3 separate regions of the Homo sapiens genome follow, and regions 1 and 3 are each linked to region 2. Evidence: fine-mapped expression QTL. A gene starts in region 2. Each other region holds a variant in brackets. All regions are shown on one strand. Distances are between the middles of the regions. Region 1 overlaps GHITM (growth hormone inducible transmembrane protein). Region 2 holds the start of CDHR1 (cadherin related family member 1). Region 3 overlaps RGR (retinal G protein coupled receptor).

The links. PIP is the estimated chance that this variant, and not a neighbour inherited with it, causes the effect.
Region 1: its variant is the best candidate, but not a certain one, in a credible set for the expression of CDHR1 in whole blood (TOPMed, PIP 0.84).
Region 3: its variant is the best candidate, but not a certain one, in a credible set for the expression of CDHR1 in spinal cord (GTEx, PIP 0.76).

The regions. Positions count from the first base shown.
Region 1 is chr10:84,152,984-84,157,205 of GRCh38, reverse strand. GHITM (growth hormone inducible transmembrane protein) reads right to left here. Exons shown (of 9, transcript NM_014394.3): 9 at 3,638-4,222. Among named protein-coding and RNA genes, the nearest start is that of GHITM, 16 kb to the right of the region's middle. RefSeq lists an enhancer at 1,381-1,894. The variant A/G (reference allele first, on the strand shown) is at 1,776.
Region 2 is chr10:84,192,497-84,196,718 of GRCh38, reverse strand. It overlaps CDHR1 (cadherin related family member 1), which reads right to left and starts at 2,182. Exons shown (of 17, transcript NM_033100.4): 1 at 1,904-2,182; 2 at 1,130-1,225; 3 at 69-214. The coding sequence starts at 1,958. RefSeq lists silencers at 1,967-2,086, 2,157-2,286.
Region 3 is chr10:84,256,942-84,261,163 of GRCh38, reverse strand. It overlaps RGR (retinal G protein coupled receptor), which reads right to left. Exons shown (of 7, transcript NM_001012720.2): 6 at 3,158-3,271; 7 at 1,204-2,656. The coding sequence ends at 2,525. Among named protein-coding and RNA genes, the nearest start is that of RGR, 14 kb to the right of the region's middle. The variant G/CTG (reference allele first, on the strand shown) is at 1,831.

The sequences.
Region 1 (4,222 bases), 40 kb after region 2:
ATAAATTGAATGTTTAAAAACTACTAAACTTGCGTATACGGTTGTGAGGAAAAACGTCCATTCAGTCCTGCCAGAACACATTAATTTTATCTCGAGTGTAGCCACGGGGATCCTCGCACTTCTACTATCTGTATCCAGTGAGGTTGCAACAACCTCACCATCCATCAAGCTCTCTGTAGAAGGTGGAAGGTTGAGAGAAGTCCCCTGAGGAAGAGTGACATTGCGCTGGGTGACTCAGTCTGACGCAAGCCACAAATGAGGCAGAACAGGATGCTGAGGCTGAGGGGAAGAGCTTGTGCAAGGCCTCCCCTCATGCTAACTGCGCAGCAGCCCATAAGATGCGGGCCATAATGGTCGTTATGATTCTCCTCCCCCACCAGTCTTTTATTTAGGTTCATTTTTGCTTGTGGCAAAAAATACTCTCTTCATGGTTCTCAGATGTTAATGAATTGAATGTTCACCGTCCATCTTCCTGAATTGCTTCACAAAAGAATCTTACTTTAAAGGTGGAAAGTCCTCAAGGTCATAGCTTTCTAATCTATTCCTGAAAAGTCATTTCCATTTTGTGCTAGTTAAAAATGGAATGCATTTAGGATTTCATCTTATTGATGAAATTGACCTTAAAAAATGGTCAATTTTGATTTGTAGCTCGGAGTGAACTGGGCAATACAAAAAAGGACTATTTTGTACCGTAAGAAATAGATGTGAGGAAGGCACGATGATTTCCAGTATCCTTCACTGAGGTCAATTTTTTTTTCACAGAAAACTAAAATGTTCCTGTTCTATTTCCTTTAATTTACTCAGAATACTGATTCCCAAGATTTTAAAAGTGACTTACACTTTAATAGAATCTCAACCTATTTAATTTGTATAGTGCTTTTGTGATTCTCAAGCAAAATTCTACTTCTTCAACTTTTACTTTGGATTCATGGAATACATGTGCAGGTTGTTACTTGTGTATACTGCGTGATGCTGAGGTTTGGAGTACCAATGATCCCATCACCCAGATACCGAGCACAGTGTCCAATAGGTTTTCAACCCTTGCCCCACTCCTTCCTCTAGGAATCCCAGGTATCTATTATTACCATCTTTATGTCCATGAGTAGCCAATGTTTAGTTCCCATTTGTGAGAACATGGGGCATTTGTTTTTTTGTTCCTGGGTTAATTTGTTGTTTGTAACAGGATGATGGCCTCCAGCTAACTCTATAAGGACAAGCTTGCTTTCTTTTATATGGCTGTGTCCTACACGATTTTAGATCTATCATCTATCCTCCCGGCATAATTGGTTAGGGAGTTTGTCTCATTATTCTTCCCAGCCATATGACCTTGTGCAAAGATCAAACTTTGGGCAAAGAGTTCAATTCAAACATCAGCTATTACTAGTGTAGCTGGGCCACCCTACCCCACTGGAATTATATGTCTTGGGTATCACTCAGTTTTAGTACCTTTAACCTGGACACGTTACCCAGATACAATTTCAAGGTAAACATGCCTGCCTGTCTTCCTAGTTTTTTTTTTTTTTTTTTGCCCAGCAGGAGTGCAGTGGCACAATCGCAGCTTCGAAATGCTAGACTTAAGCAATCCTCCTGAGTAGCTGGGACTACAGGCATGCGCCACTGCACCCTGCTGATTTTTAAATTTTTGGTAGAGATGGGTTTTTTTGTTGTGCAGAGTGGTCTTGAACTCCTGGGCTCAAGCAATCCTCCTGCCTCAGCCTCCCGAAGTGTTGGGATTACAGGCATGAGCCACCACGCCTGCAGGTTTTAACATGTTA[A/G]GCAAAGCACACACCCGCAGCAAGTGGGAAATCCAGCTTCAAGAGAATTTCCATTTCTTACCATCTTTTTCCACTTTGTCCATCTCTCCCTGCAGCCCTCCCCCATCAAGCATCCATTGTATGAAATGCCCATACTACCTTTTTCTGTGTGCTTTACCTACTATGCTTACTCTTGAAAATTTCCTCCTGGGCCATCTTAGAAACTTATTATTCAGTCTGCATTTCCATTTTGCTTACCTTTCTGTGACACTCATCCAATGGCCTATGGCCGTGTTTACACGGATTTGATATGCTTTAGAAGGCAATTACTTTTATTCATCATTGTCTCCCCTGGGCCCAGCTAGCATGGCACCTGTTACATAAAAAATTCATGTTTTCTGACTGTTCAGTAGATGCCATTTTAAGCAACAACTCAAAGGGCCTTTTTTCTCGGGATTATTTTAAAACATGTTTCATTTATCCTCTAGTATTTCAGACGATGTCAGAAAATGAAAAATGGACATTTACTTTTTTACCTAAAGCCTATCACTTTGCAGGTCATTACTCTTCGCTGTGAATGAGGAAAAAAAAAAACAAAAACTCTGTGGTATGTTAAGAGCCAAGAAACTAGTGATTTTTTTCTATTACCATTTACAACTGGTATGTTTTACAAACGATCACATTTTATATATCAGCTTACCTTTTATATGTTATTTATTTATTTATCTTTTTGAGACGGAGTCTTGCTCTGTTGCCAGGCTGGAGTGCAGTGGCGCGATCTTGGCTCACAGCAACCTCCGCCTCCTTGTCTCAAGCGATTCTCCCGCCTCAGCCTCTCAAGTACCTGGGACTACAGATGCACACCACCATGCCCAGCTAATTTTTGTATTTTTAGTAGAGACAGGGTTTCACCATGTTGGCCAGGATGGTCTCCATCTCTTGACCTCATGATCTGCCTGCCTCGGCCTCCCAAAGTGCTGGGATTACAGGCGTGAGCCACCGCACCCGGCCACATTTTATATATTATTTTGCATAGCCTTCATTGTCTTAGCAAAGTCAGAAGAAGTCCAATAACATAATGTCATTAAATTAACAACAACGACAACAACAACAACAAAACAACCCAGGATGGGGGCAGTGGCTCAAGCTAGTAATGCCGACACTTAGGAAGGCCAAGGTGAGTGGATTGTTTGAATCCAATTTAAGACCAAACTGAACCCCTCTATTTAAAAAAAAAGTAAAACAGTAAAAAAATCCTTGGTTTTCTAGATAAACTGCCTGATACCATCACTGAAATGATATCATTTTGTGTGTGATATTAATTTAAAAAAGACATAAACTTTGGGTTCTAAAAGGTGACTAAGGAAAACAGGCACTTTAAGATCACACTGATATGGGTATCAGGATGGGGAGAAGAAAAATAGAAAATTGGCATTTACATTTTTACTAATAAAAAAAAGCATCAATAGCTAAGACTTATGTAATGCTTACTAAGTGCCTGCACGTTTAACCATAAACCTATAAGACAGGTTCCAATATATTCATTTTACAGGAGAGGAAACTGGGCACACAGAGGTTAAGTAATTTGCCCAAGGTCACATAAGAAATAAGAGTTGAGATTCAAATAGAGGTAGTCTAGCTACAAGTATCATGTACTTATCACACTGCACTATACTATACTGGCAAGAAACTAAGTTGCTTTCTTGAAGAAATCCCTATTCAAATGGCATGCATATGATTCACTTGGAAAAATTAGACTAATCAACATCTGGCTGAAACCTTTGTTTCAGAAATAAGCCTCCTATGTACTTTGAGATGATTAACAGTATTTCTGCATTACTGTAATAAACATTTGTCAAAAAGAGCAATCACCTCAGTCATCATACAGACTTCTTTCCCTTCATTAAAGACTTCTAAATATAACTCTTCTGTATCAAAGAACTTACAAATGTCTCAAGAAAGTAATGGTGTAGCAGTGTAAGAGAAGTAAAAGTCTGCTAGGGGAAACTAATGAAGCATTTTCCTCATTACACTTTTGGGTTGATATATTTCATTAAGACAGAACTAGTTCTGTTTTGCTTTGCTTTTTAGTGCTTAGTCTGAGAGGCAATGCGAGAAACCAAAAGTCTTAGGAGAAAAACTGCTTTCATAATTTCCAGTGTAAGCCACAAAGAAGCTTTTCTATAAAGGCTTGAAAGCTTGAAGAGGTGACAAGAGCAAGCTGTATTCAATTAGACAGTTCAATAAATATGCAAAAATAAAAAAACACTTAGCAATCATGAGTATACTGTTTGTATTCTGGAAAAAGCAACATATTTCATGCTTTGAATATTTTCTCTTGAGAATAGTTTTAAAGTTATTTCCTTTTGTAACATTCAAAAGTAAAACACACATATATAATTCCATCAAGGATTCTCTGTATGATTAACATTCTGTACAAGTCAAACATGACCACATCTATATTGGAA
Region 2 (4,222 bases):
GGAACTTCAGCCCACCGAGGTCTGTCTACAGGCAGTGGCCCCGCAGCACTCCCCACACCTCCCCATACCTCTCTGTCCAGCTCTTCAACCAGGGTGATGTTTCCAAAAGTGGGGTCAACAGAAAAGACGCTTCTAGTGCTGGGGTCAAAGCTGATGTGGTAGGAGATGGGGTCTCCCTCAGGGTCTGTCCCATTCAGGGTGTATACGTGAGAGCCTGGAAGGAAACACAGTGGAGAGACATAGAATCTGAGACCCAACTTTTCCTAAAAGTGGCAGATGCTCAGGACCAACGATTCAGCTGTTTATAAAGTGACTATTCAACTCAGTGCCAAAGGTACTGCCCTGAACTTGGTGCTCATTGCTGGCCTCACCCCTGCTGGCTGCTTCCCTCTTTGTATGTTTATTCTTCACAGCGGGTGGTTGTGATGATCAGCCACTTTCCAGATTGTAATCTATAACACGGGTTACAGAGCAGGTGCAGGTCTGCCGTGCCTAACTGTAGTGCCTATGTTCTGCTCAGCCTGGTAATAACTCCTCTCTCAGGATCCAAGATTGAGGGGCTCCTGGGTACAGGGAAGGGGAAATGGGAGCAGCCATTAAGGCAGGAGGGGTGACCCACAGTGCACCACTGTCCCCGATGCCTGGACCTGGTTCTGCAGGGATTTCTGAGCCAGGTGCCTACTTTGCTCTGCTCTCCCTTTTCCCCGGGTTCCCACTACCCACAAAGTGAGGGAGAAGGAGTGTGAAATCTCCCCTTTCTCCTCCCCTCTCTCTGCATATCTCAGCAAGTTGGATGTTCTTAGGCCGTTTTAAAGCCTAGAGACCTGGGGCTCAGGGAGGTAAATACATTTGTTCAAGGTCACACAGCCATAAGGGGCAGCTGTAGCTGCCTGCCTCGCGGGGCGACCCTGTCTGTGGGGGGGAGCCCTGGTCTCCAGGACTGGCCAGACTTAAGTCGCCATGGCAGCAATGACCTTCTTTCCTGCCATTGCCCAGGGGAATTCGGAGAGCAAACAAGGAGCCCCCGGGCGCGCGCAGCAACTTGGGTGGTGCCTGGGGCACTTTGTGTTCTAAGTCTGCCTGCACCCCTCAGGGAGACCTATCGGGAGCAGGTGCCAGGGCTACTCACCTACAGGGGTGTCCTCTGGGAGGCTGAACAGAGCCATGTTTCCGTTGGTGCTGCCGACCCCGTTGTCGAAGAAGTGCGGGGCGAAGTTGGCCTGAGCTGGAAAAAGAACACAGAACAGACGGACACCCAGGCAAAGGACACCCAGACACCAGGAGGGAGCTTCGCACCAGCGCGGTCCCGCGTCAGGCCCAGCTACTGGGCAGGAGGGCGCTCCGCCTCCCCAACCCAAGTGCACCGAGGGACCCCACTGGGGCGCCGCCCAGAGGATGCCCCTGACCCCCACTCCGCCCCCGGTGGGCTCGGGCTTGTCAGGGACACGTAGCATGTGGGCGCTTAGAACCCAGGTAGCAATCCAACCCCTCCTTCATCAATGGGCAGATTGCACCCGCGCTCGGAGAGGGGCAGTGCCCCAGCCCAGCCAAGGTCAAGCCGCGAGTCAGGGCACTATCTCCTGCCCCACGCAGCATCGGAGCTGCCACCAAGCCTACAGCTCTGGTTCCCAGCAAGCGGAGAGCAGCGGGGGTCCGGGCGCCAAACCCTGGGGCCCTAGGATGCCAGCTCTGGAGAAGCGCCCCGGAGCTCCCCACTACTCCGCTACCCCACTCCCCACTACCGAATGGGCCAGGAAGATGGAAGGACTTCTCCGCTCCCGTCCACCAGCCCGAGTCCCACTCTGGAAGTGGTCCAGGACCATGTCCCTCTGGCCACCTGGGTGACGCCAGCGCCCATCTCCCTCGCCATCCACGCGGCCAGCGCGGCCCAGCGGCCACTCACCCAAGCAGAGGCGCAGCAGCCCCAGGGCCAGGGCGGCCCACCGGCAGCGCCTCATGTCTCCGCCGGCGCGGAGTGTCGCCTGCCGCCGCCGAGACCGGGCGCAGGGGCACGGAGCATGCCCTGGGCCCGCGGGGAGGGCAGAGACCACAATGGGGGTAGCGGCGACTGCAGCCGCGGCGGGAGGGGGCACGGGGCGGGAGCGGCGGGTGGCGTGAGGGCGCTAAGAGGATGACACGGCTCGGATCTGCTCCTGCCGGCCGCCTGACGAGACCAATTAGCGGCGCAGAGCGGAGCGACAGGCTCCCAGCCGCGGGCGGGGGCAGGAGGGCGTGACAAGAGGACTCCCCGCCCGCCACGCCCCCTTTGCCGGCGGCCCCCAGTCCTGGACAGGAGGACACCATGGGGGACAGGAGTGTCTTTCCCCCAAGTTGTCCTGAGGCTTTCCCAGGGTACTTAAGTCCTGGTGGGGCTTGGGCTTCGCAGTTTTCTTTTCTCATCAACTTCCTCTGTGACTTTCAGGGGCTTAGCTGTCTTCTCTGAGCTAAGCATTCCAGAAGAAAAGTTAGTGGAGCGGCCGAGAGGGCCTTGCCTTAGCAGTCTAAGCAGGTTCTATAAGCCGCGTGAGACCAAAGGCAAAGAGAAAGGGTGATGGATGGGCAGCAGATGGTAAGGGGTTATCAGGACCCCCTCTCTGTGATCTCAACCCATTCCTGCCCTGTTCCCCAGGCTGGACCACCTCTCCCAAAGGGTCTGATCTGTGTGGTGGGCAGCAGGGAGGACCCTCAGGTGTCCACCAGGGTGAGAGGCAGTTCTGCTCCCCATTCCCAGTCAGTGCCCAGTCTGGGACCATGAAGGGGCAGCTGACCCACTCTTCAAACCTTCCAAGGAAGAGTGAAGGGCCTGAAGGCAGAGTTAAGCCCCATCTTAGGACAGACTTGCACAGAGCTGGCCAAGATAGATCTGAACTGCCCGAGAGGCACGAGATCTCATTCCTAGAGGGTATTTACACAAAGCAAGGCACTGCTATTGGGGTCCTGGATGCTGATAACTTGAAGACACAGGTAAGCCCAGGAACCTTTTTGGCTGCTGGTAAAGCTCCTTGGGCTTCCTCGTTCTCCTGCTCTGACACTGGAGGGTGCTTGGAAATGCAGCCTGTTTTCCTTTTCCTGGTTGGGCCATTTATGGGGGTACAGGTCACTTCAAGCCCAAGCCAGGCCACTTCCCAGGATGCCCTTGGGTGGATGTGTTCTCAGATAGAGGAGATCCCTCCTCTGTGTGCTCCTGGGAGAGGTCTCCACAGCTGAGGACTCAGCATTCCCCCCCTCCCCCTGCCAGGGGCCTTTGAGGGAACAGAGCACCCCCCATCCCTTGGTCTAGCCCTACATGATCTACTGTGAGCAAGGGTCAGGGATTTGCAGAGAAGAAGGAAGATGAATCAATGGTTTTAGAATGTGCAGCAGTTTTCAGGCCTAATTGGCCGAAACCCTTGTTGAGTCTCCTTAGGCTTGGCTCTTTTGCTGAAAAGACACACTTTAAATTGCACAGATGTTCTGAATCTGCCTCCCAAAGTGCTGGGACAAAGCTAAGGCAAGTATTCTGCAAGTCCCATATAGGGATGTGGAGACTGAGTCTTGCCGTGGATTTCCCAGGAGCCAGAGGCAGAGCCAAGGTTTCCTGGAGTAGATGTCTTGGTGGGCCGAGAAAAGCCAGCTCTCCCTGGGTCCTGTTAGCCCTGCTCCTCACCAATCTAGGGCCGTTGATTTCTCTCTCCTCAGTTCCCTCAGTCAACAGCCATGCACTGGAGAGGGAAGGGGAAGGAGTAGCCTACATGCCATGTGCTGTATGTGTGCTTATGTATATTTGCCCATATTATCTTATTTGACCTGCACTGCTCTCCCAATGTGATTTTCTCTGCTTTGCAGAGGAGGGAGATTTCCTCATTGGCTGTGTACGACCAAGCAAGTGACTTATTCTCTCTGAGGTGCAGAGCTTGGATTCACATACAGTTTGGGTTGGCTCCAAAGAAGGTTCAAACTCTTTTTTTTTTTGAGCTGGAGTCTCACTCGGTCACCCAGGCTGGAGTGCAATGGCGGATCTCAGCTCACTGCAACCTCTGTCTCCTAGGTTCAAGTGATTCTCCTGCCTCAGCCTTTCAAATATTGGCATTACAGGTGCACGCCACCATGCCCAGCAAATTTTTTTTCTTTTTTTTTTTTTTGGTAGAGACGGGGTTTCACCATGTTGGCCAGGCTAGTCTTGAACTCCTGACCTCAGGTGATCCACCCATCTTGGCCTCCCAAAGTGCTGGGATTACAGGCA
Region 3 (4,222 bases), 64 kb before region 2:
AACCCAGAGGCCCACAGGATCAACAGGGGACACAGGCACTGAGGTTGACACAAGAGCATGTGTCCTGGGCAAAGGGCCGAGCTGCCCTGAGCTCTACAAACTGTAACAATGTAGGAAGGCAGCCGGGTAAAGCCTCATCTTCTGACATCTGGATTTAAATAAACTGTCCTGATTTTTAAATGTTGGCAACAAACCTCAAAACATTTTAAAGTAATGTGCAGGCCTAGCCCCGTATTACCAGAGGCTGTCTTTGACTGGCATGTACTGGTGGCTGATACTCCATGAGCACTTACCATGACAGGGAATGTTCTGGTCCTTTCTGTGTAGTCAAGTTGCCACTTCCATCATCTCACCTCCCAACTTGGGAAACGATGCACAGGCAGAGGAAGTGACGGGCAGCAGATCACGATTTAATACATGGTGTTTGAATGCTGGCAGCCTGGCTTGAGGTCCCATAAGCAAACCCTGGGGCTTTTACCCCTTTCTATGTAAGACTGAGTCCCTGCAAGGCATGGCCAAGACTTAACGAACAGCTCTGTTTTAATGAGTATTTTCTATGTGCTTAGTGAGTACATGTTATCTTCAAGCCTCACAACAACCCTGTGATGTCCATGTTAACATCCTTATGTTAAGGGTTAGAGGATTTAGAAGGAGTGATGTTAGGACACCTTTTCAATAAATGGTGCTGGGAAAATTAAATTGCCATATGCAGAAGAATGAAACTGGACCCATATCTCTTACCATATATAAAAATCAACTCAAGGATAGACACGGTGGCTCATGCCTGTAATCCCAGCACTTTGGGGGCCAAGGTGGGTGGATCACCTGAGGTCAGGAATTTGAGGACAGCCTGTTCAACATGGTGAAACCCTGTCTCTACTAAACCCCAAAAAATTAGCCAGACATAGTAGCGCATGCCTGTAATCCCAGCTACTTAGGAGGCTGAGGCATGAGAACTGCTTGAACCTGGGAGGCAAAGGTTGCAGTGAGCTATGATGGTGCTACTGTACTTCAGCCTGGGTGACAGAGCAGGACTCCGTCTTAAAAAAAAAAAAATCAACTCAAGATGGATTAAAGACTTAAGTGTAAGAATGGACACTATAAAAATCTTGGAAGAAAATCTAGGAAAAACTCTTCTGGGCATTGGTCTAGGCAAAGAATTCATGACAGAAACCTCAAAAGCACAAGCAACAAAACCAAAAATAGACAAATGGGACTTAATTAAACTAAAAAAGTTTCTGCACAGCAAAATAAACCATCAACAGAATGAACAACGTGCAGAACCGGAGAAAATATTTGCAAACCATGTATCCAGAATATATCCAGAATATATAAGACTATTATATATTATCCAGAATATATTATCCAGACTATTATCCAGAATATATAAGAAACTCAAATAACTCAACAAAAAAAATCCAAATAATGCCATTAAAAAGTGGGCAAAAGACATGAATAAACATTTTTTCAAAAAGAATACATACACGTGGCTAAGAAGCATATGAAAAAATGCTTAACATCAAAAGTCATCAGAGAAATGGAAATTAAAACCACAATGAGACCTTATCTCACACAAGTGAGAATGGCTATTATTAAAAAGTCAAAAAATTACAGATATTGGTAAGGATGCAGAGAAAAGGGAACACCTATACACTGTTGGTGGGACTGTAAATTAGTACAACCCCTATGGAAAACAGTATGGTGATTTCTCCATACTGTCTTAAAAATAGAGCTACCATTTGATCCAGCAGTCCTACTACTGGTATCTACCCAAAGGAAAAGAAATCAGTATATCAAAAAGAAACCTGCACTTGTATGCTTATCACAGCT[G/CTG]TTTACAGTAGCAAAGATATGGAATCTATCCATCAACAGATGATTGGATAAAGAAAACGTTACATATATATAACGTTTATATATGTATATGGAATGGAATACTACACTGCCATAAAAAAGAACGAGATCATGTCTTTTGCAGCAACATGGATGAAACTGGAGGTCATTATTTTAAGTGAAATAACTCAAAAACAGAAAGTCAAATACCACATGTTCTCACTTGTAAGTGGGAGCTAAATAATGTGTACACGTGGACATGGAGTGTGGAATAATAGACATTGGAGACTCAGAAGGGTGACAAGGTGGGAGGGGGTGAGGGATGAGAAATAACTTAATGGGTACAACGTATATTATTAGGGTGATGGTTACACTAAAAGCCCAGACTTCACCACTAGGCAATCTATCCATGTAACAAAACTGCACTGTACCCCCTTACATTTATTATTATTTTTAAAAAGGAATGACTTTCCTGAGGCCTCTCAGCCTTGAGTGTAGGGGGCTGTGACCGACACTCAGGTCCATCTGGCTCTTTCTGTGCAGCCTGGTGTCTTTCTGAATCCTGTGTCCAGCCTAGGACCAGGATCCACGGGGCCACTGGGGAAGGTGGGTGAGTGTCTGGGCTTGGCCACTGAGGCTGCTGGGCAGGACTCCTGGAACAGCCTCCTGGCCTGGGGCTCACTCCAGGGTGGCAGGCTCACTTGGTTCGGTCCTTCTCCCTCTTCTGCGGTGAGAGGCACTGCCAGATTCCCCTGCAGACCATCTCATTGCCCAGGGCATAGTTGATGGCATTGATCGTGGGCACCATTTTGGCAATGAGGGCGGGCACCTGTTGTGGCAGAAAAGTCCAGAAAAGAAGCTTCAAAGCCACTGATCCTCTCTCTGGTCTCACCTGGTGACCCCGGTCACCCTCCACCTACAACTGCCAATCATTTAGTTCTGCAGCCTTGGAGGCTTCCCTGACTAGTTGGTGGAGATGCATGGCTCACGGAGTCCATGGAGCCATACTCTTGTCCAGACCCACCTGCTCCCAGCCTGGGGACTAATCTCAACCCCTGGTCACAGAGTCTTTATCTACACCATCTGGCTGGCTGTCCCTGTCATCTCACATGAGGTTTGGGCAATGTCAAGCAGCAGCCTGGTATGACTCAGAGACGAGGTGGGGGATTAGGGGGGCAAACTAATGCTCTATGCCTTGTGAGTATCCAAAGGAAGAAACACAGAAAGGAAGAGACTGACACAGAGGTCATAAATCCAGAAAGTGAGATGAGATGAGACAGAGAACAAAGATGGAGAGGGGTCTAGTTTTAGGTACTAGAAGTATCTGTACCATCTGCAGTTTGGGGGAGATGGAAGTCACGTCTGCGATGACTGCGTATAGATACAGGATGGCATAGGGGCCCCAGCCGAGCAGCAGCGTCCTTGCTGGCAGAGTGGTGTTTACCTGGGGAGAAATTGTCACAGGAGATGTCAGCTTGCTCCAGGTGGCCCACAGCCCTATGTGGCCAAGAAAACCAGGTCAGCACTCAGCAGGGCGGGGCAGCATGGACCAGGCTTCAGGAGGGGGCTGAGTCTGCAGGGGAACTTGGGACCAGATGGGCCTCTCTGTTGTTTAAGACTGTGTGACCTTAAGCCTTTTATTTAAACTTGCCTGACCTCAGCTGCTGTGTCTGTAAAATGGCCTGACAATACCCAACGTGGCTGGAGGCCGAGACTGGGTGGATAATGAGCGCTTCCTCCTGGGTCTGTACTCTTTGTTTGTCAAATACAGAAGGGGTCTCACTATGTTTCCTAGGCTGGTCTCGAACTCCTGGGTTCAAGGGATTCTCCTGCCTCGGCCTCCCAACGTGCTGGGATTACAAGCATGAGCCACTGTGCCTGGCCTGCGTCTGTGCTCTTTAAGAGGAATCCTGGGCTCTGTGACTGCGTGCTCAAGGGGCCCCAGGCTGAGCTGCCCTCAGGCCTCAGTCCTAGAACCAACTCGTCATCCACAGCTACAGCCACCCGGCGAGACCACCCTGTCTGGGCTCCCAATGTGAAATACAATCAGCGGGGGAGGGGCTTGTCCAGAGAGCGGGAGATGCTGGGGTGCCGCCTGGGGCCATGAGGGGGCGCAAGACTCGCGCTTTAATTTCAGCGGGAGCTGCCAAGTTCCAGCCCCGCACAAACACGCGGACGTGCAATTCTGACGCTCAAGTTCTTGCCTGTTTTCTCCCTGACCTGACTTTCTTTAACAAAGAGGGTGATTAAGCTGGAAGAGGGCATATTTTCTTCCATCTTGGATTATTAAAATATGTTGACCAAGAGACTTTTTTTTTCCTCTTAACTGTCCCTTATTTGGGGAAAAAAAAACCCACGAACAACGGAGCTCAGCACCTCGGGGCCCTCCCGGGAG